Linked DNA regions of Homo sapiens. The protein of the gene in region 4 interacts with the protein of the main gene of each other region in a pairwise test. Each region holds a gene or a part of one and is shown on either strand. Other genes may lie near its edges. The genes, in order: PECAM1, KIF1B, ACTA1 and SYNC.

The links.
Region 1: the proteins of SYNC (region 4) and PECAM1 interact in binary tests that used the Homo sapiens proteins (3 or more experiments, as listed by UniProt).
Region 2: the proteins of SYNC (region 4) and KIF1B interact in binary tests that used the Homo sapiens proteins (3 or more experiments, as listed by UniProt).
Region 3: the proteins of SYNC (region 4) and ACTA1 interact in binary tests that used the Homo sapiens proteins (3 or more experiments, as listed by UniProt).

Annotation. Positions count from the first base shown.
Region 1 is NC_000017.11:64,359,804-64,366,954, forward strand, and holds part of PECAM1 (platelet endothelial cell adhesion molecule precursor), read right to left. Parts: intron 3,595-7,151; coding exon 3,346-3,594; intron 613-3,345; coding exon 337-612; intron 1-336. UniProt on the Homo sapiens protein: Cell adhesion molecule which is required for leukocyte transendothelial migration (TEM) under most inflammatory conditions.
Region 2 is NC_000001.11:10,206,385-10,213,665, forward strand, and holds the start of KIF1B (kinesin-like protein KIF1B), read left to right. Parts: upstream 1-4,185; 5' UTR 4,186-4,494; intron 4,495-5,231; exon of another isoform or gene 5,232-5,354; intron 5,355-7,281. UniProt on the Homo sapiens protein: Has a plus-end-directed microtubule motor activity and functions as a motor for transport of vesicles and organelles along microtubules.
Region 3 is NC_000001.11:229,431,003-229,438,283, forward strand, and holds ACTA1 (actin, alpha skeletal muscle), read right to left. Parts: upstream 3,093-7,281; 5' UTR 3,002-3,092; intron 2,126-3,001; 5' UTR 2,114-2,125; coding exon 1,985-2,113; intron 1,879-1,984; coding exon 1,554-1,878; intron 1,430-1,553; coding exon 1,268-1,429; intron 1,184-1,267; coding exon 992-1,183; intron 901-991; coding exon 719-900; intron 641-718; coding exon 497-640; 3' UTR 243-496; downstream 1-242. UniProt on the Homo sapiens protein: Actins are highly conserved proteins that are involved in various types of cell motility and are ubiquitously expressed in all eukaryotic cells.
Region 4 is NC_000001.11:32,699,678-32,707,730, forward strand, and holds the start of SYNC (syncoilin), read right to left. Parts: upstream 3,094-8,053; 5' UTR 2,984-3,093; coding exon 2,931-2,983; intron 1-2,930.

The DNA.
Region 1 (7,151 bases), on a different chromosome or scaffold from region 4:
AGTGCAATGGCGCAACTTGGCTCAGTGCAACCTCTGCTTCCTGGGTTCAAGCAATTCTCCTGCCTCAGCCTCCCGAGTGGCTGGGATTATAGGCGCACGCCACCATGCCCAGCTAATTTTTGTATTTTTAGTAGAGATGGGGTTTCACCATGTTGGCCAGGCTGGTCTTGAACTCCTGGCCTCAATGATTCACCGGCCTTGGCCTCCTAAAGTGCTGGGATTACAGGCATGAGCCACCGCACCTGGCCCCCTACTTCTCTTATTGTTCCCACAGTCCCTGGGCGTGAAAGAATGCCCCAAGCCCACATGATTTCTTCTCACAGCACAGCAACTTACCTATCACCTTCACCCTCAGAACCTCACTTAACATTTTGGCATGGGAATGGCAATTATCTGCAACACACTGGTATTCGACGTCTTCAGTGGGGTTGTCTTTGAATACCGCAGGATCATTTGAGTTCTTGGTACTATTCTCCAAAACTTTACTTGTTTTTAAAAGTTGGTAAGAAATAGGCAAAGTTCCACTGATCGATTCGCAACGGACTTCGATGGTCTGTCCTTTTATGACCTCAAACTGGGCATCATAAGAAATCCTGGGCTGGGAGAGCATTTCTAGAACAGAGGGAGAAACAATCCAAAAGGCACTGAAGGTAAAAGCAAAGCATCCAGCACAAGAGGTTCCTCCTCCAAAGCCTGAGCTTTGCTTTCTATCCCTGCTGTAATTTCAAATGCCTGCCTGCCTTATTTACCTTTATAGGACACCTATGAGACTGACAGGCTGTGTGTGTGTGTGTGTGTGTGTGTGTGTGTGTGTGGTGAGAAGGGAAAGGGAAAGAGAAGTACAATAAGCAAAACAGAGAATGACAGAAATTCAAGGAAAACATTACATCCCCAGAAATACATGTTCATATTTTACCATATCTCACACGCACATGCACACATAATATACTTTTCTTGTGTTGAGCAAAGACACAGAAAACATAGAAAAAGTACAACAAGTAGCCAACAAAATGTGTGTGTGTGTGTGTGTGTGTGTGTGTGTATTTGAGACAGGGTCTCACTCTATTACCCAGGCTGGAGTGCACTGGTGCGATGACAGCTCACTACAACCTCCCAGAATCAAGCAATCCTCCTACCTCAGCCTCCCGAGTAGCTGGGACTATAGGTGCACACCACACCTGGCTAATTCTTTATTTTTTGTAGAGACAGGGTCTCACTATGTGCTCAGGCTGGTCTTGAACTCCTGGACTCAAGTGATCCTCCCACATCAGCTGCCCAAAGTGCTGGGATTATAAGTATGAGCCACCACACCTGGCTGAGCATATATGTGTGTGTGTGTGTGTGTGTGTGTGTGTGTTCTGAGACCGAGTCTTGCTCTGTCACCCAGGCTGGAGTGCAATGGCGCAATCTCAGCTGACCACAACCTCCACCTCCTGGGTCCAAGGGATTCTCCTGCCTCAGCCTCCCGAGTAGCTGGGATTACAGGCATGTGCCACCACACCCGGCTAACTTTTGTATTTTTAGTAGAGAGGGGGTTTCACCATGTTGGCCAGGCTGGCCTCAAACTCCTGACCTCAGGTGATCCACCCACCTTGGCCTGCCAAATTGTTGGGATTACAGGTGTGAGCCACCAGGTCCAGCCAATATATATGTTTTTAAATTATTCTCAGCCAGTCACGGTGGCTCATGCCTGTAATCCCAGCACTTTGGGAGGCCGAGGTGGGCAGATCACCTGAGGTCAGGACTTTAAGACCAGCCTGACCAATGTAGAGAAACCCCGTCTCTACTGAAAATACAAAATTAGCTGGGCAAGGTGGCACATGCCTGTAATCCTAGCTACTCGGGAGGCTGAGGCAGGAGAATCGCTTGAACCCGGGAGGCAGAGGTTGCAGTGAGCCGAGATCATGTCATTGCACTCCAGCCTGGGTAACAAGAGCAAAACTCCATCTCAAAAAAAAAAAAAAAAAAAAAAGATAAAAAAAGTCTTCTTAGTGCTTCAGCCTCTTAACAGATAAGAATTATATTAGGTCATTATTTAGGCATTAGTTTATTTAAACCTTATACAATGAGATTTCCTCCTCCCAAGAACAAAAAATAAAATAAAACGTTATAACACACATTTGTCTCTTGCATTCCTGCCTTTTGAGTTAGGTGGTTAGAGCATTAAAAATAGGCTAAAATCCTGGTTCAGTTGAAGCTATAATAAAATCTTAGCTGGATAAAACACAGCCACAGGTTAAATGAAAGGATCGTGACTGAATAATATAGTGACAGTGACAACTTGACTGGAGTTCTATAATCAACCAGAATCTCGCCACCCAAAGTGTGGTCCAGAGACCAACAGCATCCACATCACCAAAATGCTAGTTAGAGATGCAGAACCTGGCCCCATCTGGGCCTAAAATACTGAATCATAACCTGTATTTTAACCAGGTCTTGCATGCACATTCAGGCCTGAGAAGCCCAGCTCCTGGTGGTCAAATACCTACATTCTGTCCACTGGAAGTCTTACCCTTTTGGGTTAGCCAGGATACAGATTTAAAAAATGGAATTTTGATATTCTTGGCCGGGTGTGGTGGCTCAGGCCTGTAATCCCAGGACTTTGGGAGGCTGAGGCAGGCAGATCACGAGGTCAGGAGATGGAGACCATCCTGGCTAACACGGTGAAACCCCATCTCTACTAAAAATACAAAAAAATATTATCCGGGCGTGGTTGCGGGTGCCTGTAGTCCCAGCTACTTGGGAGGCTGAGGCAGGAGAATGGCGTGAACCCAGGAGGCGGAGCTTGCAGTGAGCCCAGATTGTGCCACTGCACTCCAGCCTGGGTGACAGAGCGAGACTGCATCTCAAAAAAATAAATAAATAAATAAATAAAAGTAATAAAAATAAAAATACAAAAATTAGGCAGACATGGTGGTGGGCACCTGTAATCCCAGCTACTTGGGAGGCTGAGGCAGGAGATCACTTGAACCTAGGAGGCAGAGGTTGCAGTGAGCTATCGTGCCACTGCACTCTAGCCTGGGCGACACGTCTCAAAAAAAAAAAAAAGAAAAGTTTAACATTGACTAAGTAGTGTTTCCTTCCTGAACTTTTGGGTGGGTACTTGCTCCAGGAGGCAGAATCTTGCCAGAATCTTAGCAAGTCAGAGGCCACATCATCATCAGTGAATCAGTGTTCTGAGCAGGAATACCTCCTTGTTTCTTTGGCCTTTGATTTCGCACTTCTCTCCCTCTAGTTCTTACCCTGCCTGAGTCTGCTCAGACCGGAGAGGGCGGCAGCTGCAGATAAATTTCCTTTCTCCCATTCAACCCTGGATGTCCTCTGAGTCAGCAACAATATACTCACCACATACGACTATCTGGACTGTGTTGCTTTTCTTGACCACTTTGTCAATACCTGCAGTGCAGATATACGTCCCACTGTCCGACTTTGAGGCTATCTTGGTGAAATCTTGAGTCTGTGACACAATCGTATCTTCCTTCTGGATGGTGAAGTTGGCTGGAGGTGCTCCTGGGATGGAGCAGGACAGGTTCAGTCTTTCACCTTGGTCCAGATGTGTGAAGGAAGATTCCAGTTCGGGCTTGGAAAATAGTTCTGAAAAACAGTGAGTGGGAATGGAGCGAGATGTGTCTGGCCACCACCCTAAAGACCCTTCCTGGAGAGGCCCTTGGCTCAGGTGCTCTTGGCAGAACCAACTTCCAACTTCCAGCAAAAAGTTTTCCTTTGCTTCTCATGTACCTAACGATCACCCCAGTAAGGAGCTAGGGTTCATTCTTTGCCTAGGATTCCAATGGCAGGTTTTCCTTTCTTGTTAATCCAATTTATTTCAATGACAAGGATTAGAAAAGTTTTGCAACTTGTGGCCAGGTGTGGTGGCTCATGCCTGTAATCCCAGCACTTTGGGAGGCAGAGGTGGGTGGATCACCTGAGGTCAGGAGTTGAGACCAGCCTGGGCAACATGGTGAAACCCCATCTCTACTAAAAATATAAAATTAGCCAGCATGGTGGTGGGCGCCTGTAATCCCAGATACTTGGGAGGCTGAGGCAAGAGAATCCCTTGAACCCAGGAGACAGAGATTGCAGTGAGCCGAGATTGCTCCACTGCACTCCAGCCTGGGCAACAAGAATGAAACTCCTTAAGCTAGCAGAAGGCAAGAAATAACTAAAATCAGAGCAGAACTGAAGGAAATAGAGACACAAAAAACCCTTCAAAAAATTAATGAATCCAGGAGCTGGTTTTTTGAAAGGATCAACAAAATTGATAGACCGCTAGCAAGCCTAATAAAGAAAAAAAGAGAGAAGAATCAAATACACGCAATAAAAAATGATAAAGGGGATATCATCACCGATCCCACAGAAATACAAACTACCATCAGAGAATACTACAAACACCTCTAAGCAAATAAACTAGAAAATCTAGGAGAAATGGATAAATTCCTCAACACACACACTCTCCCAAGACTAAACCAGGAAGAAGTTGAATCTCTGAATAGACCAATAACGGGATCTGAAATTGTGGCAATAATCAATAGCTTACCAACCAAAAAGAGTCCAGGACCAGATGGATTCACAGCCGAATTCTACCAGAGGTACAAGGAGGAACTGGTACCATTCCTTCTGAAACTATTCCAGTCAATAGAAAAAGAGGGAATCCTCCCTCAGGATGATGAGGCCAGCATCATCCTGATACCAAAGCCGGGCAGAGATACAACCAAAAAAGAGAATTTTAGACCAATATCCTTGATGAACATTGATGCAAAAATCCTCAATAAAATACTGGCAAACCAAATCCAGCAGCACATCAAAAAGCTTATCCACCATGATCAAGTGGGCTTCATCCCTGGGATGCAAGGCTGGTTCAATATACACAAATCAATAAATGTAATCCAGCATATAAACAGAACCAAAGACAAAAACCACATGATTATCTCAATAGACGCAGAAAAGGCCTTTGACAAAATTCAACAACCCTTCATGATAAAAACTCTCAATAAATTAGGTATTGATGGGACGTATCTCAAAATAATAAGAGCTATCTATGACAAACCCACAGCCAATATCATACTGAATGGGCAAAAACTGGAAGCATTCCCTTTGAAAACTGGCACAAGACAGGGATGCCTTCTCTCACCACTCCTATTCAACATAGTGTTGGAAGTTCTGGCCAGGGCAATTAGGCAGGAGAAGGAAATAAAGGGTATTCAATTAGGAAAAGAGGAAGTCAAATTGTCCCTGTTTGCAGATGACATGATTGGATATCTAGAAAACCCCATTGTCTCAGCCCAAAATCTCCTTAAGCTGATAAGCAACTTCAGCAAAGTCTCAGGATACAAAATCAATGTACAAAAATCACAAGCATTCTTATACACCAATAACAGACAAACAGAGAGCCAAATCATGAGTGAACTCCCATTCACAATTGCTTCAAAGAGAATAAAACACCTAGGAATCCAACTTACAAGGGACATGAAGGACCTCTTCAAGGAAAACTACAAACCACTGCTCAATGAAATAAAAGAGGATACAAACAAATGGAAGAACATTCCATGGTCATGGGTAGGAAGAATCAATATCGTGAAAATGGCCATACTGCCCAAGGTAATTTATAGATTCAATGCCATCCCCATCAAGCTACCAATGACTTTCTTCACAGAATTGGAAAAAACTACTTTAAAGTTCATATGGAACCAAAAAAGAGCCCGCATCACCAAGTCAATCCTAAGCCAAAAGAACAAAGCTGGAGACATCACGCAACCTGACTTCAAACTATACTACAAGGCTACAGTAACCAAAACAGCATGGTACTGGTACCAAAACAGAGATATAGATCAATGGAACGGAACAGAGCCCTCAGGAATAACGCCGCATATCAACAACTATCTGATCTTTGACAAACCTGAGAAAAACAAGCAATGGGGAAAGGATTCCCTATTTAATAAATGGTGCTGGGAAAACTGGCTAGCCACATGTAGAAAGCTGAAACTGGATCCCTTCCTTACACCTTATACAAAAATTAATTCAAGATGGATTAAAGACTTAAACATTAGACCTAAAACCATAAAAACCCTAGAAGAAAACCTAGGCATTACCATTCAGGACATAGGCATGGGCAAGGACTTCATGTCTAAAACACCAAAAGCAATGGCAACAAAAGCCAAAATTGACAAATGGGCTCTAATTAAACTAAAGAGTTTCTGCACAGCAAAAGAAACTACCATCAGAGTGAACAGGCAACCTACAAAATGGGAGAAAATTTTTGCAACCTACTCATCTGACAAAGGGCTAATATCCAGAATCTACAATGAACTCAAACAAATTTACAAGAAAAAAACAAACAACCCCATCAAAAAGTGGGCGAAGGACATGAACAGACACTTCTCAAAAGAAGACATTTATACAGCCAAAAAACACATGAAAAAATGCTCACCATCACTGGCCATCAGAGAAATGCAAATCAAAACCGCTATGAGATACCATCTCACACCAGTTAGAATGGCGATCATTAAAAAGTCAGGAAACAACAGGTGCTGGAGAGGATGTGGAGAAACAGGAACACTTTTACACTGTTGGTGGGACTGTAAACTAGTTCAACCATTGTGGAAGTCAGTGTGGCGATTCCTCAGGGATCTAGAACTAGAAATACCATTTGACCCAGCCATCCCATTACTGGGTATATACCCAAAGGACTATAAATCATGCTGCTATAAAGACACATGCACACGTATGTTTATTGTGGCACTATTCACAATAGCAAAGACTTGGAACCAATCCAAATGTCCAACAATGATAGACCAGATTAAGAAAATGTGGCACATATACACCATGGAATACTATGCAGCCATAAAAAACGATGAGTTCATGTCCTTTGTAGGGACATGGATGAAATTGGAAATCATCATTCTCAGTAAACTATAGCAAGGACAAAAAACCAAACACCGCATCTTCTCACTCATAGGTGGGAATTGAACAATGAGAACACATGGACACAGGAAGGGGAACATCACACTCTGGGGACTGTAGTGGGGTGGGGGGAGGGGGGAGGGATAGCATTAGGAGATATACCTAATGCTAAATGACGAGTTAATGGGTGCGGTACACCAGCATGGCACATGTATACATATGTAACTAACCTGCACATTGTGCACATGTAC
Region 2 (7,281 bases), about 22 Mb from region 4:
CCTGGGGGGCAGAGGTTGCAGTGAGCCGAGATCGAGTCACTGCACTCCAGCCTGGGTGAGAAGGGGAGACTCTGTCTCTAAATCAATTAATCGGTCAATCAATCAATCAATAATAGACATTTCCAGAGAAGAAAATGGAAGGCGGAAAATCATCAACGGCAGAAATAGCACCTCCGAACTCCAGCCTGGGCGACAGAACGAGACTCCATCTCAAAAAACAAACAAAAAATAATAATAACAATAAGGAGTTCAAGACAAATCAATAAATTCTCTGGTTTTTCCTCCCAACTCAACATTTCCATCTTCCTGTTATTTTGTTTTTCAAGAAATAAAATATTACACATAAAGTTGCAGATCCTCATGTCATCCTCCCTTTTTTTGTTTGTTTGTTTTGTTTTTCTCTCTTTCTTTCCTGGGTTAATCTCATCCTGAATTTGATGATTGTCATTGCCATCCATGTTTTCACACTTGACTATACATAAATTTAGTCCTAAACAGTATAGTGCTCATATTCATACTTCAGACTTTATGTATAAATGCCACTGTCCCGCACCTATTATCCTGCACCTTTTTTTTTTTTTTTTTGAGACAGAGTCTCGCTCTGTCACCCAGGCTGGACTGCAGTGGTGAGATCTCGGCTCACTGCAAGCTCCACCTCCTGGGTTCACGCCATTCTCCTGCCTCAGCCTCCCGAGTAGCTGGGATTACAGGCATGTACCACCACATCTGGCTAATTTTTTGTATTTTTAGTAGAGACTGTGTTTCACCATGTTGGCTAGGCTGGTCTCGAACTCCTTACCTCAAGTGATTCACCCACCTGGGCCTCCCAAAGTGCTGGGATTACAGGTGCATTTATTCTTAAATATTGAATAGCTTTTATTGCTTTTTTTCTTTCTTTCTTTTTTTTTTTGAGACAGGATCTCACTCTGTCATTGAGGCTCGAGTGCTGTGGTGCAATCATAGCTCACTGTAGCCTTGACCTTCCAGGCTCAATTGATCTTCCCACTCAGCCTCCCAAGCAGCTGGGACTACAGGTACATACCACCATGTCTGGCTACTTTTTTTTTTTTTTTTGTATTTTTTGTAGAGATAGGGTCTCGTTATGTTGCCTAGGCTTGTCTCAAACTCCTAGGCTCAAGCGATCAGCCTACTCTGCCTCCCAAAGTACTGGGATTACAGGCGTGGGCCACAGCACCTGGCCGGGAAGACTTGATTTTTTAAAAAGATCCCATTAAAAATAGCAATAAAGGCCAGGCTCAGTGGCTCACACCTGTAGTCCCAGCACTTTGGGAGGCTGAGGTTGATGGATCACTGGAGTCCAGGAGCTGGATACCAGCCGTCTCTACAAAAAATAGAAAAATTAGCTGGGCGTGGTGGTGTGTGCCTATAGTGCCACCTACTCAGGAGGCTGAGGTGGGAGGATGGATTAAACCAGGGGGCAAGGGTTGAGGCTGTAGTAAGCTGTGATCACACCACTGCACTCCAGCCTGGGTGACAGAGTGAGACCCTGTCTAAAATAATAGTAATAATAAAGTCTTCCTATCAAAAAGGAACACTTCGGATTTTTGTGTATTGATTTTGTATCCAGAAACCTGATTGTGATTGTGATTGTGATGGGAGAGTGGCAGTGCACCACGTGACTAGGACTTCTGATGTTCTCGTATCCTTGCATTCCAGAGACAGCCCTACCAGATCATGGCTACATTCAATTTTCTAGTAATTTATTTATCATTTTAAAGAGATGCTTTTATACAGAATTTGTAATCTGAGAAACTGGCTGGGCAGTGTGACTTCATCTGTCAGAGAGGCAAAAGGCTTATGCAGAGTGGGCTGTTTGGCCTTGGATCCTGGAGCAGCCTTCTTTGCCTTTATTGACCCTTCTGTGCCTTCTGTGTGCCCTTTGGCTAGCTTCTTCTCCTGCCAATCACAATCACACCCTCTTCACTACGTTTTTGTTTTAAATTTTATTTTATTTTTTGTTGAGACAGAGTCTCACTCTATCTCCCAGGCTGGAGTTCAGTGGTAGGATCTCAGCTCACTGCAACTGCCGCCTCGTCCACCTCCCGGGTTCAAGTGATTCTCCTGCCTCAGGTTCCCAAGTAGCTGGTATTACAGGCGTGCCCACCACGCCTGGCTAATTTTTGTATTTTTTAGTAGAGATGGGGTTTTGCCATGTTGGTCAGGCTGGTCTCGAACTCCTGACCTCAAGTGATCCACCCGCCTCAGCCTCCCAAAGTGTTGGGATTACTGTCGTGAGCCACCGCGCCTGGTTCTTCACTACGTTTTAGATTCTTTTTAGATTGTGCTCCATTGAGAGCTCAAGCAATACAGCCACCCAGGTTTTCGTAACTCTCCATGGCGCTCACCACAGTATTTACGCAAGGAGGTCCACGCTATGATGAAGTGGTGTCTACTGTTGAATTGATGAGTTCCTCTTTATTAACCTACTATAGTTTCATTTTACTCTTAGCCGTCAGGAAGCTAAGAGCTGAGTTCTGTGCTCAGTGGCAACATATTTCCTTGACTATGGATTTTTAAAATATTGTTTTTCTGGCCGGGCGCGGTGGCTCATTCCTGTAATCCCAGCACTTTGAGAGGCTGAGACAGGTGGATCACCTGAGGTCAGGAGTTCAAGACCAACCTGACCAACATAGTGAAACACCGTCTCTACTAAAAATACAAAAATTAGCCGGGCGTGGTGGCAGGCACCTGTAATCCCAGCTACTCGGGAGGCTGAGGCAGGAGAATCGCTTGAACCTGGGAGGCGGAGGTTGCAGAGATTTGACATCGTGCCACTGAGCTCAGCCTGGGCGAGAGTAAAACTCTGTCTCAAAACAAAACAAAAAAATTTTTCTTTCTAGGCATGCCTCTCATTCAAACAGCTTTTAAAAAGTCTCTTGCTTGTTTCATTATTATGAATTTTACGCCTATTTTAAAGCTATACGGTTTCACTGCTGTATGCTTTAGTGTAAGCTATGTCAAATCCTTTTGCAGGTAGGTGGAGCTTAAATTCTATAAAATGAGACGTGATCAATAAAAGCGGATGAAGAGTCTGAGGACTTGAGTGGTGGTGGAGATTTTCCAGAATTATTAGTGTAGAAAATTAATTTCGATGTTTTAGTGCATATGCTTGTACATAATACCTTTTACTCACAATAATACTGTATTTAATTCAGGGGAAGACATGTGATTTTACTTTCAATGTCTGCTAGTAAATAAAAATAATTCACAACCTTATAAAGTAATAGTGCTCGGCCTGGGCCTGATAATTGAATATATTATCACTGAAGATTATATTTTGTTAAGTACTGAATTGAACAGTTTCTGAACAGTGAGATTTTTCTTTCCAGCTGAATCTAAATCTGATTTTAAAGAAATCACTGCTCGTGCTTTTGTGTCCTCCGGGTTTCTAACTTCCACTCTCCCTCCTTCAAGGGCATCTCCCAGAAGGGGGCTGGGCTCGTTAACTCAGGGACGGTGCAAAGCGTTTGTTCCTCTCCTCACAGCCCTTCCGCGGTCTCCCAAGGAGACAAGTGGAATGCCCACCAAGTCATGCTTTTCCATTACTCATTCCGCCTTCTCTCCCGAGGTGGCGCGTGGGAGGTGTTTTGCTCGGGTTCTGTAAGAATAGGCCAGGCAGCTTCCCGCGGGATGCGCTCATCCCCTCTCGGGGTTCCGCTCCCACCGCGCCGCGTTCGGCCGGTTCCGCCTGCGAGATGTTTTCCGACGGACAATGATTCCACTCTCGGCGCCTCCCATGTTGATCCCAGCTCCTCTGCGGGCGTCAGGACCCCTGGGCCCCGCCCCGCTCCACTCAGTCAATCTTTTGTCCCCGTATAAGGCGGATTATCGGGGTGGCTGGGGGCGGCTGATTCCGACGAATGCCCTTGGGGGTCACCCGGGAGGGAACTCCGGGCTCCGGCTTTGGCCAGCCCGCACCCCTGGTTGAGCCGGCCCGAGGGCCACCAGGGGGCGCTCGATGTTCCTGCAGCCCCCCGCAGCAGCCCCACTCCCCGGCTCACCCTACGATTGGCTGGCCGCCCCGAGCTCTGTGCTGTGATTGGTCACAGCCCGTGTCCGTCGCGGGCGCCGGGGCGGATACGAGGTGACGCGCAGAGGCCCAGCTCGGGGCGGTGTCCCGCGCCGGCGACTGCGGGCGGAGTTTCGCGAGGGCCGAAGCGGGGCAGTGTGACGGCAGCGGTCCTGGGAGGCGCCCGCGCGCGTCGGAGCAGCTCCCCGTCCTCCGCAGCCGTCACCGCCGGCCGTCGCCGCGCCCTGGCCTCCCGCACTCGCGCACTCCTGTCCGCCGCCCACCGCCCACCTCCCACCTCGATGCGGTGCCGGGCTGCTGCGTGATGGGGCTGCGGAGCGGCGCCCTGCGGCTCGCGGCGGCCGCTGCTCGCGCTGAGGTGCGTCGGTGCCCGGCCCCCCGCGCCCCCGCGCGCCGCGGCTCCTGTTGACCCGGTCCGCCCGTCGGTCTGCAGCGCGGCTGAGGTAAGGCGGCGGGGCTGGCCGCGGTTGGCGCCGCGGTCGCGGGGTTGGGGAGGGGGCCGCTTCCGCGGGGAGGAGCGGCCGGGCCGGGGTCCGGGCGGGGTCTGAGGGGAGGTAGCGCGGGACGGGCGCCGGGTGCGGGAGCCTCGCCCTCGGGGGAGGGGACCCCTCCCTAGGCCAGCAGCGAGTCCCGGGCCGGCGTCCAGCGGTCGGCTGGGGCCCCCGCAGTGCCCTGCACCGGCCCTCCGTTTCCCCCGCGCTGCCAGGCCCCGGCTGTGCCCAGCGCTCTCCAGACCCGCCGCTGCCTGGCCGTTCCCTGGGCTCCGCGCACGTTGCAGCCCGGGGGGCGGCTGTGCTTCGTTTGAAGCCATCGTTTCTCATTTTCCCTCTCCCCTTTCCTCCTTTGTGGTGGGCATCGGGCTTCGGCTGGGAATGTGGTTATGCCCTTTGCCAGATGGCGATAGGAAAGGTCATCGCTTGGCGCTGGGGGAGCCGAGGGCTCGAGGCCTGGAAAGAGGGGTGCGATAGGAAGGGAGGGGGCTTGTTGGATGCTGGCCAGGTGTGAGGAAGGCTGGTGTGGTCTCGGCATTCAGCCGACTGGGATTACTCGGGCAGCCATATTGGGAGGATGATCTGACAAATCCTTTAGGAGCCAAGTCCAGTTGTTGGAAGGCACCGAGTGACAGCCCTGGCAGCTTTCAGGGTGACTGGCCAGACCAGAAGCCAAGTTGTGGGGGTTGGGAGGCTGCTTGAGCAAGCTAGTCATTGTTCATGCAACACAAAACATTCCCGCCCCTAACGCCAGAATGGAGCTTCCAGATCCCTTTTTTTTTTTTTCCTTGATTGCTAAATGAGCTTCCAAGGTAAACTGCCTTCAAGATTCCATTCTTGTTGGGGTGAAATTCCGTGTTTCTCTATTCATCTTCTGCGTCCAGTGCGGGGGCTGTGAAAGGCCTGCTGATGCTTTACATGTGCATAGGCCGATCTGAGAATTGCTAAGGCCACTGTATCAGTATGGAGGCCTCGAGTAGCCGTAGAGCATTGGATGGATAGATTTTCAGAGTCGCTCGACTTGCAGAGAAGAAGTAAACCAGAGTATTCTGATAGTGGGCGAGGCTAGTGGCGGCATTTCTGAGGACGCAGGCTGTCATCTTTGTGGAATCTCGAGGTAGCTGAAATTAGATTGTCAACAGATCCCTTGCTCATATCTCTTACTGCTCTGAGCAGCTGTTCTGCCACCATTGAACATTCCGCTTTGTGTCATGATGTGCCTGTCTGAGCCTGATGAAAGTGTGCTGATGAGATTTGAATAACTCTTAAGAGGTGATATCATGGTGGATATTTTATTTAAAGGCTGGCATTTTGTCTCCTTAGTTTAGTCATAACAAAATCTAGTTCTTGTGTTCCTCTAAGAAGTGAGGTGGTGCTTTCTGATTAAGTTGATATGGTTGCTGGATTATAGAGCAAGTGTTGTTAATGTATTGTTTGAAGGTGGAATATGAGAATTACACATAGGTTGGTATTGTAAAGCAGGTCTGGAGATGATCAATAACTGGGTTCAGCATGAGTCTGTAGATCTGTTCTTTTCTATATCCTAGATGTGGACAGGACCTGGAGAGATGGCATGCCTGCTTTCTTCTTTGTGGCCTTTGCTTTCATTCAAGTTCAATTTGTTCATAAATACATTCTCATAACTTCTCAGGTTGAACTATGTAAAAAATTTTGGGATGGGTGTGGTGGCTCATGCCTTGTAATCCCAACACTTTGGGAGGCTGAGACAGGAGGATCCCTTGAGCTCAGGAGTTCGAGACCACCCTGGGCAACAGAGTGGGACTCTGTCTCTACAAAAATAAATGAATAAATAAATACCTGGGCATGGTGGCTCATGCCTGTATTCCCAGCTATTTGGGAGACTGAGGTGGGAGGATTGCTTGAGGCTAGCCTGGGCAACAGCAAGACCCTGGCTAAAAAAAAAAATGTGTATATATATATGTGTGTGTGTGCATGCGTGTGTGTATATATATATATATATATATATATATATATATATATATATACACACACACATTTAAAAAATTTGGATAGCTTTTGCTAAGCAAGGTCTTAACACTATTTTTTTGTTATTTTTGTCATCAAGCTTTAGTTTTAAAACTTGTTGAATCAAATGTAACTTCAACAGAAACTAGTGTTTTTTGCATTACACTAGTATGAGAGAAATACAGAATGTCTGTTTTGAAATTCCATGCCCTAAGTTAGAAGTATTTCTAAGTTTTTAATTTTTAGAGTTACTTTATTAGTATAAAGATCTGAATATTTTTGATTAAAAATAATTTCAGCATTTGGTAAAATCAGACCTGATTGTGAATCTGATACAGAGGCTAGGTTTTATGAGTATGTGTAGCTCTGCTCTGATGAGTGTTTTTCCAAAATTTATCCAATTAAGTATAGCTTTTAAGGCTTAGAACAGACTGTTTTTCCTTTTCAAGACCAGATATGAATGCACTTTTCCTTTTTTCTCTCTTTCTTCTTTCCCATTTTGATTTCGTGCAGGGAATAAGTGTCCAAGAAAGTCTGCCAACGGAGTCTTTCTTAAGGCCAAAGCTTTTTAGCCCATTTTCTCACTGTGGTCTTGTCCTGGGTACAAAGTAAAGGACAATGGGCCCCCTGCCTTCCTGTTTGTAATCCCCTTCCCAGGCTGCTAATCATAGTAGATCTTTTCCAGGAGGAAGCATATCCTTTTGGTCTTGTAAACTAACATGATATAATTTCATAATGCTCTGAAGTTATTTT
Region 3 (7,281 bases), about 200 Mb from region 4:
CAGAGGAAGAAAGCTGCCTCGCCACACCCCAGAGGGTCAAGTCAGGCCACCACTAGCTGCCAGTGATCTGGAATGGATCTGATCCACTGCAGAAACCGGCAGGGGAGCATGGGAAGATGTAAGTTTTGTCTTCCAAGGAGCCCATTCATTTGGGGTATCGTGAAAAGTGACTTAAGAGGATGTGGGGGATGGGAATCCCTCTTCCTGCTCCACTCCCGCCCCAAGCAAATAAACACGACCACTTTACGCAGCTTAACAGAATGACTTTAATGCTTCTTCAAGTTTTCCATTTTCTTCCACAGGGCTTTGTTTCGAAAAATAACAAAATGAGGTAATAAGTTAATGTATGTACACGTTATAAACACTGTGTCAGTTTACGATGGCAGCAACGGAAGTTGTTACAAAGAAAGTGACTGCGGGGTGGCTGGAGCTCAGCCGCCCCCCCATTGAGAAGATTCGTCGTCCTGAGAAGTCGCGTGCTGGAGGTGGAGTGTGTCTAGAAGCATTTGCGGTGGACGATGGAAGGGCCGGCCTCGTCGTACTCCTGCTTGGTGATCCACATCTGCTGGAAGGTGGACAGCGAGGCCAGGATGGAGCCGCCGATCCACACCGAGTATTTGCGCTCCGGCGGGGCGATGATCTGCAAGACAGCGCGTGAGGTGGGGAGACCTCACCCTGGAGCCCACCCCGCCGACAGCCCGCGCAGGCCACCACCCACCTTGATCTTCATGGTGCTGGGTGCCAGCGCGGTGATCTCTTTCTGCATGCGGTCAGCGATCCCAGGGTACATCGTGGTGCCCCCCGACATGACGTTGTTGGCATACAGGTCCTTCCTGATGTCGATGTCACACTTCATGATGCTGTTGTAGGTGGTCTCGTGAATGCCCGCCGACTCCATACCTGGGGACCGCGGCGGGGAGCGTGAGCAGAAGCTCGGGGCGCCGGGGGCCGGCGGGGCCTGGGGGCCGGGGCGAGGGCGAGCGGGGCTCACCGATGAAGGAGGGCTGGAAGAGCGTCTCCGGGCAGCGGAAGCGCTCGTTGCCGATGGTGATGACCTGCCCGTCTGGCAGCTCGTAGCTCTTTTCCAGGGAGGAGGAGGAGGCGGCCGTCGCCATCTCGTTCTCGAAGTCCAGGGCCACGTAGCACAGCTTCTCCTTGATGTCGCGCACGATCTCGCGCTCAGCTGCGGAGGGCAGAAGCAGGAGAGGAGCCCTCACTCAGGGGCCGCCGCCGGCCCTCCCGCCCGGGGTGCAGGGGCGCCGCGCACCTGTGGTCACGAAGGAGTAGCCACGCTCAGTGAGGATCTTCATCAGGTAGTCGGTGAGATCGCGGCCCGCCAGGTCCAGGCGCATGATGGCGTGCGGCAGCGCGTAGCCCTCATAAATGGGCACGTTGTGGGTGACGCCGTCGCCGGAGTCCAGCACGATGCCTGTGCGCGCGCGGGAGAGAGTGAGTGGCTGGGGGCGAGGCCGAGGCTAGGCTCTCAGCGCTAGCGGCGGGGGCGGGGGCGGGGGCGGGGGCGGGAGAGGGGACTGGGGGCAGCGGGCACTCACCGGTGGTCCTGCCGGAGGCGTAGAGGGACAGCACGGCCTGGATGGCCACGTACATGGCGGGCACGTTGAAGGTCTCAAACATGATCTGGGTCATCTTCTCGCGGTTGGCCTTGGGATTGAGGGGGGCCTCGGTGAGCAGGGTGGGGTGCTCCTCGGGAGCCACGCGAAGCTCGTTGTAGAAGGTGTGGTGCCAGATCTTCTCCATGTCATCCCAGTTGGTGATGATGCCGTGCTCGATAGGGTACTTCAGGGTCAGGATACCTCTCTTGCTCTGAGCCTCGTCGCCCACGTAGGAATCTTTCTGACCCATACCGACCATGACGCCCTGCAGAGCCGAGACACCACGCACCCGTTAACGCCGCTCCGGGTGGCACCAGGCTGGCTTACGCGGGGACCCCGAGCCGGCTCCCTCTGCGGAGGGGCAGCCTGACCTGGTGTCGGGGGCGGCCCACGATGGACGGGAACACGGCCCTAGGGGCGTCATCCCCGGCGAAGCCGGCTTTCACCAGGCCGGAGCCATTGTCGCACACGAGGGCGGTGGTCTCGTCTTCGTCGCACATTGTGTCTAGTTTCTGCAAGGACAGGGAGACCGCGAAGAGGCGCGGTGCATCAGCGCAGAAGTCTCAGCGGCAGGGGGGGGTAAGCCTGGCTGGCCCCGACGTCCTCCCTCCCCAGGAACCTAGGGACATCTCCTGCCGGAGCCACTCAAATTCTGCCAGGGCGGCGACCAGGGGTTCTCTTCTCGACCTTTGCCCCGGCTAAGGGCTGCCCTGAACCAGGAAAAGGGGCACAGGGTCGCGAGACCCCACTGAGAAGTCCTCTGTCCACATAGCCAGGGGAACATGTTCCCCAAGACCTGTCTGCCCTCCCTGCCTGACACCTGTTCCAGGAGCTGGACGCTAGTGCCCATCCTCTCTGCGCCTCCCTGACCACATCTGTCACCTAGGGAGATAAGGCCTCAGCACTGCCTGCTTGCTGGGCCAGCGTGAGGGTGGAAGGAGATGCCCATGGGAAAGGCGTTGGCACCCCATCCAGGGAAGAGTGGCCTGTTAGGAACCCTGTGACATTTCAAACTCAGAAAGGGCCTTTTCGCCTGTTGGAAACCCAGAATGGGTGGTCCTGGCTGCTCGCTCATTCGCTCTAGCGCTAGTTTGGAAGGGAACTGCCTTGGCGACAACTAAAGCAAAACCGTTTATCTCCCTAGGCACATCCTACATGCCAGGTAAAGGAGCCCAAAGGGGCTAGAGAAAAATTTGGAGAAGTCTAATTTCCAGAGGCTGACTGTCTTGCCTCCTTTTTAAAGCGCGTGTGGCTCCGGAGACGAGGCACAGCGCTCAGGGCGCAGGCCTGGGGCTGACCAGGTGAACCGACTGGGTTCTGCCCCGGAGTCCTTCAGGTTCCCCTCGGTAGTGCCCTGTCCCCCTGTCCCCTCCCAACTCCTGCCCTACCTGGGCGGGTAGCTACAACTGCTACTCTCGGCTCGGGCCCTGGTCGCCGCGGAGGGGAAGCGAGGCTTCACTTGGCGCTGTCCGCTGCGGTGGCCGCTTGTCCCTCTGCTCAGGTTTTATATAGCCCGCGGGCATTCCCTCCGCGCCACCCCGCAGGAATGTCGCTGCCCTTCTCGAGCCATATTTGGGTGTTGGGCACTAGAGCCCCCTCCCTCGGCCGGTTCGCGGCCTGGGCCCCCGCCCGGGTCCCCTGCGTTGACCAAAGAAGGAGCGGGTTGGCCCGGTCCCAGGTAACGCGGGCCGGGCCGTATATGGAGTGTCTCCCTAGCGGGTTTGCCCCTCCTGACCCGACCCAGTTGCCCGCCGGAGGGGATGGGGTGGGGCGAGGGTCACCGCGTTCGCCGGTGGGTGCATGTGTGCGCCTGCGCTCCGGGAACCGCACCTGTCCCAAAGGCCTCCCCAACCATGTCCACTCTGAGCGCCCTGGGCGCTCGGGAAGGTGCCTGACTGCTGACTTCCAATATTTCAACTCCTCTTCGGGTTCTTTGCTCAGATCCCCAAACTCCCACTTGCGACTACCGGGAAGAGGGAGTCGTGTGGAGTGGTGGGCTTGGGAGGATTGGAGAAGCAGTCACTCCTGAGTCTCAGGAAGGGAAGGAAGGCGAACTCCCTCTCCTTTACGCCCCTGGAACTCCATTTCTCTCTTCCCACCCCCGAGCTCCCTGAATCCAAAAAGCTGAGCCACGTCGACCCCTTCCCCCACCGCACAGAGGGCCACCGGCGGCCGGAGGGCGCGCAGCTGTCGCAGGATAGACAACTGGCGGGGGGAGGCGAGGGCGGAGCGCCGGGGAGGAGGCGCGGGGGCTCCCGGGGATAGGCCTGTCAGGCGCAAAGCCTGAGCACACGGAGCTGTCCGCCTCAGGGACGCGCAGCGCCCTTGGGTCTCCTAAAGGGATTGAAGGGGTGAGGGTTCCCCTCCTGTAGGACGCACTGGCCCCAGGTTTTGGTGGGCTGAGGCCCTCCCCCAGCCTCTTTGGTGGCACTATGTGTGTCCCTCTCCTGGGGCTGAAAGACAAGGGTCACAACCCAGGACTGGCTAGACCTGGAGTGGAGGTGGAGATGGGTGAGGGGCTCTTCCTAGATGAGGCTTAGCTGGTCCTTCCTCCCAATAAATTGGAGGGGGTGGGGGGACAAGGACGCGGCACTCTAGGATGGGTGGCAGTTTTTCCTTCTGCAAAGGCTGAACAAACTCATCTTTATATTTAGAGGATGATGCCTGCCAAGGCCGGGCTGCCTCCCAGTCCACCTTGTAGTCATCATTTACCAGAGCCTGCTGCAGGTTCTATTTATATCACTGATATATGGGGCTATGCCTTTCAGATTTTCTAGAAGGATTTGGAGCTACTTATGGTAAAGTAGAGTGGGGGTCAGCAGAGGTTACCCAGTTGGTGCCTGTCCCTCTCTCTCTCTCTCTCTCTCTCTCTCTCTCTCTCTCTCTCTCTCTCTCTCCTTTTTCCCTAAGACAAGGACAGTTCTAACCTTGTGGAGGGCACAGGAGGAGCAGTCTTCTGTGATGAACTCAGGGACATGCTTTAAGGGGGTACATCAGTGATGTGGTGTGGGCCAGAACAGAATCACTCATTTTTCGGATGTGCTTAAGTGCTCCTAAAATAGTTGCAATTCACTTTTGGTAGTGGAACCCAGCAACTGGGACAGGTGTGGATTCTCTAAAAGGGGGATGGAAGCATATGCGACCCTCCTCTGTAGCCCACATCATGGCAGTTCATCCCAAAAATAAACAAGTATTAACAAAAATGTTCTAGTGAATAAAATGCTACCTTCCTAAAAATGATCAATTAAAAAATAAGGAGTTTGACTAGTATAGGGACTATGCGGTGAGGATAAAGTCTCCTATGGTTCCATATTTAGTTCTTCCAAGTATTTTGGAGAGTAAGTGAATAATTGACAGAACTGTATTTCCTTTTTAACATCCTGTGTCCTCCTGTGTCAGCGAGTAGTGGAGATACTAGAAAAAAACCACTTAGCAAATGAGCTGCATGTAACGTAAGGGGACTAGCTTACATTTGGGCCTTGAAGGTAGGAAATTTGCTGCCGTTCACTGGATACCTCAATATTTGTGCGCATTCCAAAGGAGAATGGGATTGTCACTATTTTTCAAAACTCTTGCTCAGTTCAACTCTTACCTTTCCTTACAGAAAGCTTTTCTAAGCTCAGTCTGTTACATTCAAACCCACACTAAAAGCTGACCATGATTAAAAACACTCACAAGCGAACAGAGACCTGCTAGTACAGCAAACTGTGGGAGATGGCCCCTGAGGTGGCCAGCCAGGCATCTGTTCCCTGCCCACATGATTTGCGGCTGGTTTAAATAGTCCCTGACAGGTCACCACAGGCCACCCTCAGTCCCATTCTGGTCTTGTTGCATTCTCATTGGCTTAGAGAATAGACTGAATGGTGGGTGGCAGAGCCACGTCTCCATACATGTATGTTTTGGGGGAGCGCAGCGGCGCCCTGCTCCGCCTTTTGAGAACTGTCACTAAGTAAAGGTCAGCCATGTAGGGTATGCTTGACAGGGAGTTCCTGCTTCTAAGTTTTCAGGTGCAGCCTCAGCTCTTCATACCCTGACCGGGCCCTTCTGCTACCACTACCCCGGTGTGTTCACACTTCCCTTCTCTCCAATTGTGCCCCTCAACACTCCACACACCCGTACCCCAATCTTGCTCAGTTCCAGTCTTCCTACTGTGTTTCCTATCAATTTAAACAGGAATTGGTAAAACACTTTATAATATGCTTTCGTGTTTCAATTAACCGTTTAACTATCCTAAGGTAAATAAGATAGGTATTACTCATTCCAGTTTTTTTTCTTTTTTAAAGAAAACTGAGGCTTAATGAGCTAAAACACACCCCAGGTTCCACAGCAGCCAGTGGAGGAGACGGGCTTGGGCTGTCCTTCCTTCTACTGCCAGTGGCCAGGGAGGGCAAGGACTGCTGCTTCTCTCTAATCCTCACCAACACTGGGTACAGTTCGAAACAGAACAGGCCCTTGAGGGATCTTTCCCAGTAATGAGCCAAAGACATCCTGACATGAAAAGCCGTAGCTTCCCCAGAAACTCAGCTTTGAGGGGCTGGCTGGGCACTCCAAGTTAGAGATATTCCAGGAACAGGGTAGACAAAGACCAACTCATTCTCACAAGCTACTTAAAAACGTCGGGTCGGCCAGGCGCGGTGGCCCATGCCTGTAATCCCAGCACTTTGGGAAGCCGAGGCTGGTGGATCACTTGAGGTCAGGAGTTCAAGACCAGCCTGGCCAACATGGTGAAACCCCGTCTCTACTAAAAACACAAAAATTAGCCAGGCGTGGTGGTGCACACCTATAATCCCAGCTACTCGGGAGGCTGAGACAGGAGAATCACTTGAACCTGGGAGGCAGAGGTTGCAGTGAGCCGAGATCCCACCACTGCACGCCAGGCCTGGGCAACAGAGAGAGACTCCATCTCAAAAAAAAAAAAAAAAAAAAAGTTGAGTCAACTCCTGGCAGCCCAAAGAAAGGGCTTGGGCTTGGATTTTCTACTTTTTCCTCCTCCTGAAGCTGGTGGTTTTTGCACTCATGGCCACCTCTAAGAACCTGATGATTCATTGGAGCAGTGCCCTCTCTTCAACATTCTTTATACCCAGAATATCATGAACTGGTTAGGAGCTTGCATTCTGGAATCAAGCAGAGCTGCATTTACCTTCCCCTCTGACTGGCTATGTGATCTTGGACAAGTGACTTTCCAGAAAGCATTCTCAACTCACAATACTCCTTAAGACTGATCTGAGGATTAAAACCAGGTGAGAGCTGAGTGCGGTGGCTCACGTCTGTAATCCCAGCACTTTGGGAGGCCCAGGTGGACAGATCACTTGAGGTCAGGAGTTCAACACCAGCCTGGCCAACATGGTGAAACCTGGTCTCTACTAAAAATACAAAAAAATTAGCTGGGCATGGTGGCGGGTGCCTGTAATCCCAGCTACTAGGGAGGCTGAGGCAGGAGAATCTCTTGAACCCAAGAGACAGGCTGCAGTGAGCTGAGATTGCGCTACTGCACTCCAGCCTAGGAACAGAGCAAGACTCCGTCTCAAAAAACCAAAACCAAAACCAAAAACAAAACAACAAACTAGGTGAGTACCTAAGACATATGAAACATTCAGCACATGGTGCCATGTCTTGCTTCCAATGACTAAGGGCTTGGGGCAGGTGCACACAGTGCAGTGGCAGAAAA
Region 4 (8,053 bases):
AAATTGCTACGCATGGTTTCAAGGTCCTTAAAGATGTGGCCCAAACATACCTTTTTTTTTTTTTTTCTTTTTTTGAGCCAGAGTCTCGCTCTGTTGCCCAGGCTGGAGTGCAGTGGTGCAATCTCGGCTCACTGCAACCTCCGGCTCCTGGTTTCAAGCAATTCTCTACCTCAGCCTCCCGAGTAGCTGAGACTACAGGCGCCCACCACCATGCCTGGCTAATTTTTTGTATTTTTAGAAGAGACAGGGTTTCACCATCTTGGTCAGGCTGGTCTCGAACTCCTGACCTCATGATCCGCCTGCCTCGGCCTCCCAAAGTGCTGGGATTACAGGCATAAGCCACCACACCCGGCCCCAAACATACCTTTTTTAGCTTCCTCTCACATTATTCCTGCAACCCACCCAATGCTTGACATCCTAGAGCTTGCATTAACTTTTTACACCTCCTACTCTAAGCCCACGGTGTCCAGCTGAGAATTGCAGCTTCTCAAAAACCACCTAACTAGAGAACCCTGTACTACCTGGGAAGGCAGAGCTCCTAGAGCCAGGGCCAGGAAGGATGCACCTGCTCAGCCAGCCAAACTCACTCTGATATTCAACAGTCCCTGCTTTCCCAGCAGACGGCCCTTTCATCATTCTCGTGCCGAGCCGCCCACCTTGGAATGACTTCACCGTGTTCAAGATTATTCTAGGCATTTTACATGAATACTCATTTATAGAATCCTCATCATCTATTGGCTGGGTGCAGTGGCTCACGCCTGTAATCCCAGCACTTTGGGAGGCCGAGGCGGGTGGATCACCTGAGGTCAGGAGTTTGAGACCAGCCTGGCCAACATGGTGAAACTCCGTCTCTACTAAAAATACAAACGATTAGCTGGGTATGGTGGTGTGTGCCTGTAATCCTAGCTACTCAGGAGGCTGAAGCAGGAGGATTGCTTGAACCTGGGAGACAGAGGTTGCAGTGAACTGAGATTGCGCCATTGCCCTCCAGCCTGAGCAACAAGAGCAAGACTCTGTCTCAAAAAAAGAAAGAAAGAAAGAATCTTCATCTATTATCTCCATTTTATAGATGAGGAAGCCAATGCACAGAGTAAGAACTCACACAAGGTTCCACAACTGTTGTAAGTGGTGGAGGCTGGAGAAGGCCTGCAGTATTTACCACCCTCCTAGGATAGGCGTGAGGTCCAAAAGAGGTAACTACAGCACATATAAAAAGCCTGGCATGCAGCAGTCACAATATACTTTTTTTTTTTTTGAGATGGAGTTTCACTCTTGTTGCCCAGGCTGGAGTGCAATGGTGTAATCTCCGCTCACTGCAGCCTCTGCCTCCTGGGTTCAAGCAAGTCTCCTGTCTCAGCCTCCCAAGTAACTGGGATTACAGGCACACGCCACCACGCCTGGCTAATTTTTGTATTTTTAGTAGAGCCGGGTTTCACCATGTTGGCCGGGCTGGTCTTGAACTCCTGACCTCAGGTGATCCGCACACCTCGGCGTCCCAAAGTGCTGGGATTACAGGCGTGAGCCACCGCGCCGGGCCCACAATATACTTCTATCTATCTAACAAATTTCTACTCATCCTTCAAGCCCTGCTCAAACTTCATCTCTTCCGTAAAGTATCTCCCAGACAGCCCCATGTGTGTTCTCAGGGCACTCTGTATGCAGCACATCTTCACACTTATTGCTCCAGTTACAGAAGTACATGTGTCTGTCTCCCTGATAGTGAGTTTCCTAAGGACAAGCAGAGTTCTCATTCTGCTCTATATCCTAGGGTGGGGCTCTGTAAGGGCAGACAGGCAGAAACCAGATGAACTCCAAGGAGGAAATCTGCCCAAGGTCGAATGGCAAAGCTGGAAGTAAAACCCAGGCCTCCTGACCTCCAAGCTGTGCTGTTAGCACACATCGTGCTGCCTCCACCACCCCACCCATGGTGCCAGGCCTCTGCTGGGTGCTGCCCTCACACAGCCGCCTCTTTTAAACAGAGAGAGGAGGGAAAGAAGCAGATGACAGGAGGCTCAGAGGAGAGGAAGCCAGCTTAGTTGGGGCCCCTGACCTCGGGCTTCCTTGGGCCCTGGGCAGCCTGCCTCTGCCACTCTGTCCCTGTCCCCAGAGAACCGCAGAGCTCTCCAACCCTGTTCAGGGATGTGGCTGGGAGTCCATGTGACATTGTGCAGGCAAGAGTCCGTGTGTCTGACTGTAGCTGTAGGTGTGGACAGCAGTATGGGTGAGTGTGTGTGTGTAAGACCGCTCAGCTTTGTGCCCCTGTGTGACAGTGAAGGGGTGTCGGGAGCTATGTATTTGCACCCTCACCTCTTGGTACACTGGGAAGTCCCAGAGCCACAGTATGACCTGGGACAGAAATACACCTCACCCCAAACCCCTCAGCCACAGGTCCCTTCCCCCAATAATCAGCCGTGCCCTGCCAGGAGGGATAGTGGGGAGGGCCCCTGGACCCTTCCCCCACCCATCCCAGGCCAGACGGGAGAGAACAAGCCCTGACAGACTCTTAACTTCAAGCTGGCAGATGCCCAGCCTTGCACCAAGTGGCTTCCACACAGCCACTTCAGCAGGGGAGGCCTCTGTCTCCAACTGACATTTGCAGGGAGGAATGAAGGCTAGCGAGAAGTGTCTTTGGCTGCTATGGGCCAAATGGCACTTGAGCGGTGGATGCCCACTCGCCTGGAAGGGTTAATTTTCATGTAGTCCCGGGAGGGGGAGGGGTATTATAAAAAGCCACAGACAAACGGAGGTGCCAGGACCCCGGGACGGCCCGACTCCCCGATGTCCCCTCACGAGGCGGCTCCAGTGCCCCACCCCGGCTGGACCACTACCCCTAGACAGGCGAAAGACGCCCGCGGTCGGGGGGAAAGGGAACCCGTCCAGCAGCACCCCTTCCCCAGCGGGGCGGCGACGCGGGCCCGGCACTGTCCTACCTCGCGGCCTGGGCGGCGCCGTCCCCGCCGCGCCGGGGCTCCGGGCTGGCCATGGCTGCGCGACCCCGGGCTGGCGGCCGCGTTATTAATAGCCGGGCCCGCGGGCCCCTCGCTCCGGCGCCCGCGCCCGCCGCACTGCCAGCTGCAACCGACACCGGATCCCGGCCGGCCCCGGGCCGGGCGCGCCCACTTGGCCGGGGCTCCTGCCGGGGGAGGAGGGAGCGGCCGCGCGGACCTGGGGGCGGGGAGAGGCTGCCCCTCCCGGACCAGCCTGGGGCGGGGGTGGGAACGGGGGCCTGGAGCTGTCTTTCCAAACCTCCCAGCCCCCTCGTCTTCCCGAACCTTCTCTCCACCCTTCCTTTCGTGAGGTCCCGTTGCAGGGGGAGTCAGAAGGGGGGTCTGAAGCCCCAGGGAGCACCTTCCCTGTCCAGCCTGGGAGGGTGGAGGCAGGGTTGGGCGGGCTGCTCAAAGGGAGCCAGCACCCCTCTCCCGCGAGTGTTTGGGGGTGTCCGCTGCCGCTCAGCGCCCTCTGGTCCCCACCCAAGAGGGGAAGGGCCGCAGCCACCCTCTGGGCACTCCGGGCTGTCCCCGGCAGCTGTCGTGAAGGGCGGGGCAGGGCGCGGCCGGGGAGGAGGGTTCACGGCCACACCCCGCGCGTTTGGGGACAGCCTGGAGCCTGGGGGCGGGCTGGGTGGCTGGGGTTAGAGAGAACTGCGGAGGAGTTTACGCCTATCACATTGAGTCCATATTTAACCCCACTTTCTGCCCCACCCTTTGAGGCTTCCTGGGGTCTCTCTCCTGCTCCACCTGTCACCCCACTCAGCCCACTTCTGTCAACTTCAAGACATACCTCCCCCCACGTCCTCAGCCCACTAGTGTGAGGGTCAAACCAGCACTGACGTCTTTCTCCCCAAGAGAGAAGCTGCTGGGCCCCTTCCCAGACCTGGGCTTCAGGCGTTCTTCCTTCGGATTCCTTTTTCCACTTAGCTACCCTGTCTGGGGAGGTCTTTGACTCAATCGCAGAAGAATGCTGGCACCATAACAAGCCCCAGGGGCTGGGGTGCCTGGGAGGCCGGTGGGGGAAGCATGCCGTGGTGTTGAATGTGTGTGGGCTTGTGTGCCCCTGTGTGACTCTGCGGTGATTGTGGGGTACATGTCTGTGTGTGAGCATGTGGATGTGTGATTGTGTGATCTCAGGGTGAATGTGTGTGGTGATTGTGCCATGGTGGAGTGTCTTTGTGGGGCTGGCGGTTTTGACTCTGTGTGGGGGGCATGCATATGGTCCCGCTTGTGACTCTGACTGTGTGCTTGTGCGTGACTGGGGGTTGATAAATGTTCATTCATCCTCGCGTCTGAGTGTGCTGCCTGTGGCTGTATATTTATATTTCTCTGTCTAATGCAAGGGGGTGGAAGATTTAACACCCAGGGCAGCCAAATATACCCTTGTAAGGTACGCACGAGAAAAAGCCAGGTTTTGAGGCTGCTGGTCATTTTCTGACTTACCCCCGAACTATTCCAGGGGAGGAGGCTGGCGAAGCCTCAGCTGCTGGGCATTTGACATCTGCTGCCCGCCAGAGGAGAGCTAAGGCAGCAAGGGCAGGCCTGCCAGAGGCTCTGTTTGCTGTGGTACCAAGCAACAGGCGGCAAGGGTGGCATTCAGAAGAGCTGGCTCTGCCCCTCCAACCCCCAGCCCAGGACCTGGCCTTAGGCTGTCCCTAGGACTGAATTTCTGACCCGCTCCTACCCTCCTGCTCAGCGCTTCTTTAGGCTGAAACCCTGAATTCCCCAGGGTCCCAGAAACTTCCCCACCTCCAAGCCTTTGTTGTTGTTTTTTTTGTTGCTGTTGTTTCTTGCAGTCAGGGTCTCACTCTGTCATCCAGGCAGGAGTACGGTGGTGCAATCATGGTTCACGGCAGCCTCAACCTCCTGGGCTCAGGTGATCCTCCCATCTCAGCCTCCCGAGTAGCTGGAACTACAGATGCACACCACCACACCTGGATAATTTTTGTATTTTTTGTAAAGACGAGGTCTCACTGTGTTGCCTAGGCTGGTCTCAAACTCCTAGGCTCAAGCAGTCCTCCTACCTCAGCCTCCCAAAGTGCTGGGATTACAGGAGTGAGCCACCACACCCAGCCAGGCCTTTTCTGCTGCTCCCTCTGCCTAGAAAACCCTTTCCAGCTCTTCACAGCCCACCTTTTACTCTCCTTCAGGTCTCAGATCACATCTCACAGAGGCCTTCTCTGATGCCTCCCCACCCCCTGCCCATAATGTCCACCCATTTATTTTTTTGTTATGGGCTTTTTTGTTTTGTTGGGTTTTGTAAAATTTTATTTAATAGAGATGGGGTCTCACTATGTTGTTAAGGCTGATCTCAAACTCCTGGCCTCAAGGGATCCTCCAGACTCAGCCTCCCAAAGTGCTGGGATTACAAGCAGGAGCCACCATGCCTCACCCCATTTACTGTTTATCCCTGTCACCCTGTTTATTTTCTGTGCAGCACTTATCAATCTGCAACAATACTATTCATTTTCTTTCTTTTTTTTTTGAGACGGAGTCTCACTCTGTTGCCCAAGCTGGAGTGCAGTGGTGCAATCTCAGCTCACTGCAAGCTCCGCCTCCTGGGTTCAGGCCATTCTCCTGCCTCAGCCTCCGGAGTAGCTGGGACTACAGGTGCCTGCAATCATGCCCAGCTAATTTTTTTGTATTTTTAGTAGAGACGGGGTTTCACCGTGTTAGCCAGGATGGTCTCGATTTCCTGACCTCGTGATTCGCCCATCTCGGCCTCCCAAAGTGCTGGGATTGCAGGCATGAGCCACCGCTCCCGGCCAATACTATTCATTTTCAATTATTTTCTTCTCTGCTTCCCCACTAGAATGGAAGCCCCATGAGGGCAGAGACTTTATGTGTCTTGTTTACTGCTGTGTCTCCAGAGCCCAGCACAGGGACTACCACATAGTAGGACCTTAAAAAAATTGTTTGTTTTTGTTTTTTATAATAATAACAATCATTTATTTTACCCACAGATCTGTGATTTGGGCACGGCTTGGTGGAGGCAGCTCATTTCTGCTTCACGTGGCATCAGCTGAGGTGGCTTGCCCAGAGGTTGCAGAACTCGCGTCCAGGACAGCTCACTCATGTGGCTGGCAAGTTGATGCGGTCTGTCAGCTGGGAGCTCAGCAGGGTATTTGGCTGGGGGTCTTGGTTCTCCTCCACATGGGCTTTTCCACGGGTTGCTTGTGCTTCCTCATGGCATGGTGGCTAAGTCCCAACAGTAAACGTCCCAAAAGAACAAGGCAGAAGTGAAAGGCATTTTTTTTGAGCTAGCCTTGGAAGCTACACACTGTCACTGCTGACCTATTCTGTTGCTAAAGGCAGTCACAAAAACCCGGGCCTCCAGCTCATGGGGAGGGGACATAGATGCCACCTTTTAATGGGAAGGGTGTGTCAAAGTCACAGTATAAGAAGAGCTTATGGAATGGGATATAGTATTGCCTCTGTCTTGGGAAAATACAATCTGCCAAAGATGCAGAATCACAGCTTGGTCTTCCACCATCTCCAGACTGTGGCCCTAATCCACACCCATCCAAGACCAGTCCAAGCTCCCTTCTAATGCCTCATTCTATCCAATGAAAGTAAAAAGGAGGGGTCGCTCACCTCACACCACTTCTGATTGTGTCCTATTGCCAGAGCTCAGTCACATGGCCATATTTAGCTTTAGTGGCTTATTATAAAGGATATTGAAAAGGATACAGATGAAGAGATGAATAGGGCAGAGTTATGGAGGAAGGGGCATGAAGCTTCCATCCCCTCCCTGGGCACACCATCCTCCAGGAACCTCCATATGTTCAGCTATCTGGAAGCTCCAAAAAAATTGTTGAATGAATGAAGGGAAGGAGGATGGTTTTACTTAGGCTAATTTAGGCAATATTTGATGCCTGCTGTGTGCTAGGCCTGGGCCACTCACCTCTCAGGAGCCCCAGTCTACTCAGGGAGACAGACACACATGTGCCCAGATTGCATACAGCAAGGCAGTGTGAGGTATTTGAGCCCATAAGATTCAGCTCACTTGGCAAACATTGGCACTTGGGCTGTGCTGGGCCCTGTGTCAGAGCAAACAGCCTTATTTGGCCCAAGCCTGCAAGAAGCTTTCAGTGTAGAGGAAGCTAGAACCGTCTCCTGGGGAGAAAAACCTATGCAGAAAATAATGCCAAATCACTGGGCTGAGTGATGTGATAGACATTGAGAACCAGGGAAGCCAGGGATGGATGGGAGAAATTAACTCCGGGACTGGGGATGGCCTCGTGAACAAAGTACCTGGGCCTGGAAGGATGAGAAAAGCTGTTCTGGAATCAGGAATCAGGCACAGACTCTGCTTTGAAGGACAAGCGCAGCCACTCTTAACTCTCAGCCCCTCCACAAAGCCAAACCCAGGAGGAGGAGAGAGGCCCCTGGGCTGGCTACTCTTAGCCTAACCTTCCTTCTCAGAGCTTTGTGTCCAGGAGCTGACTCCTGCGGCCAGCGTCTCCTGGGCCCCCTTGCCTTCTGGTTTCAGGTGGGGTTTGGCCAAACTGGGGACCCTGGCAGGAGATCAGAGAGGGAGGAGAGTGAGATCAAGATATTTATTTTTATTTTATTTTTTATTTTTGGGGGGACAGAGTCTCGCTTTGTCACCCAGGCTGGAGTGCAGTGCCATGATCTCAGCTCACTGCAACCTCCACCTCCTGGGTTCAAGTGATTCTCGTGCCTCAGCCTCCCAAGTAGCTGGGACTACAAGCATGTGCTACCACACCCAGCTAATTTTTGTATTTTTACAAAATACAAAGAGACAGGATTTTGCCATGTTGGCCAGGCTGGTCTCAAACTCCTGACCTCAGGTGATCCACCCGCTTCAGCCTCTCAAAGTGCTGGGATTATAGGTGTGAGCCATCACACCCAGCCTAGATAAAGATATTTATTATGCCCCCTCCCTGCCTGTGACTTTGGCATTAACTATATTCCTCCCCCAAAAGCCATGGCTCCTGTTGGGTGGTTTGTACCCATGGGTACAGCTCTGGCCAGGTTCCTTAACAAGGCTCCCTCCCCTGCTCCTTCAGGCCCAGGGGTAATGATTCCATTCCACCATT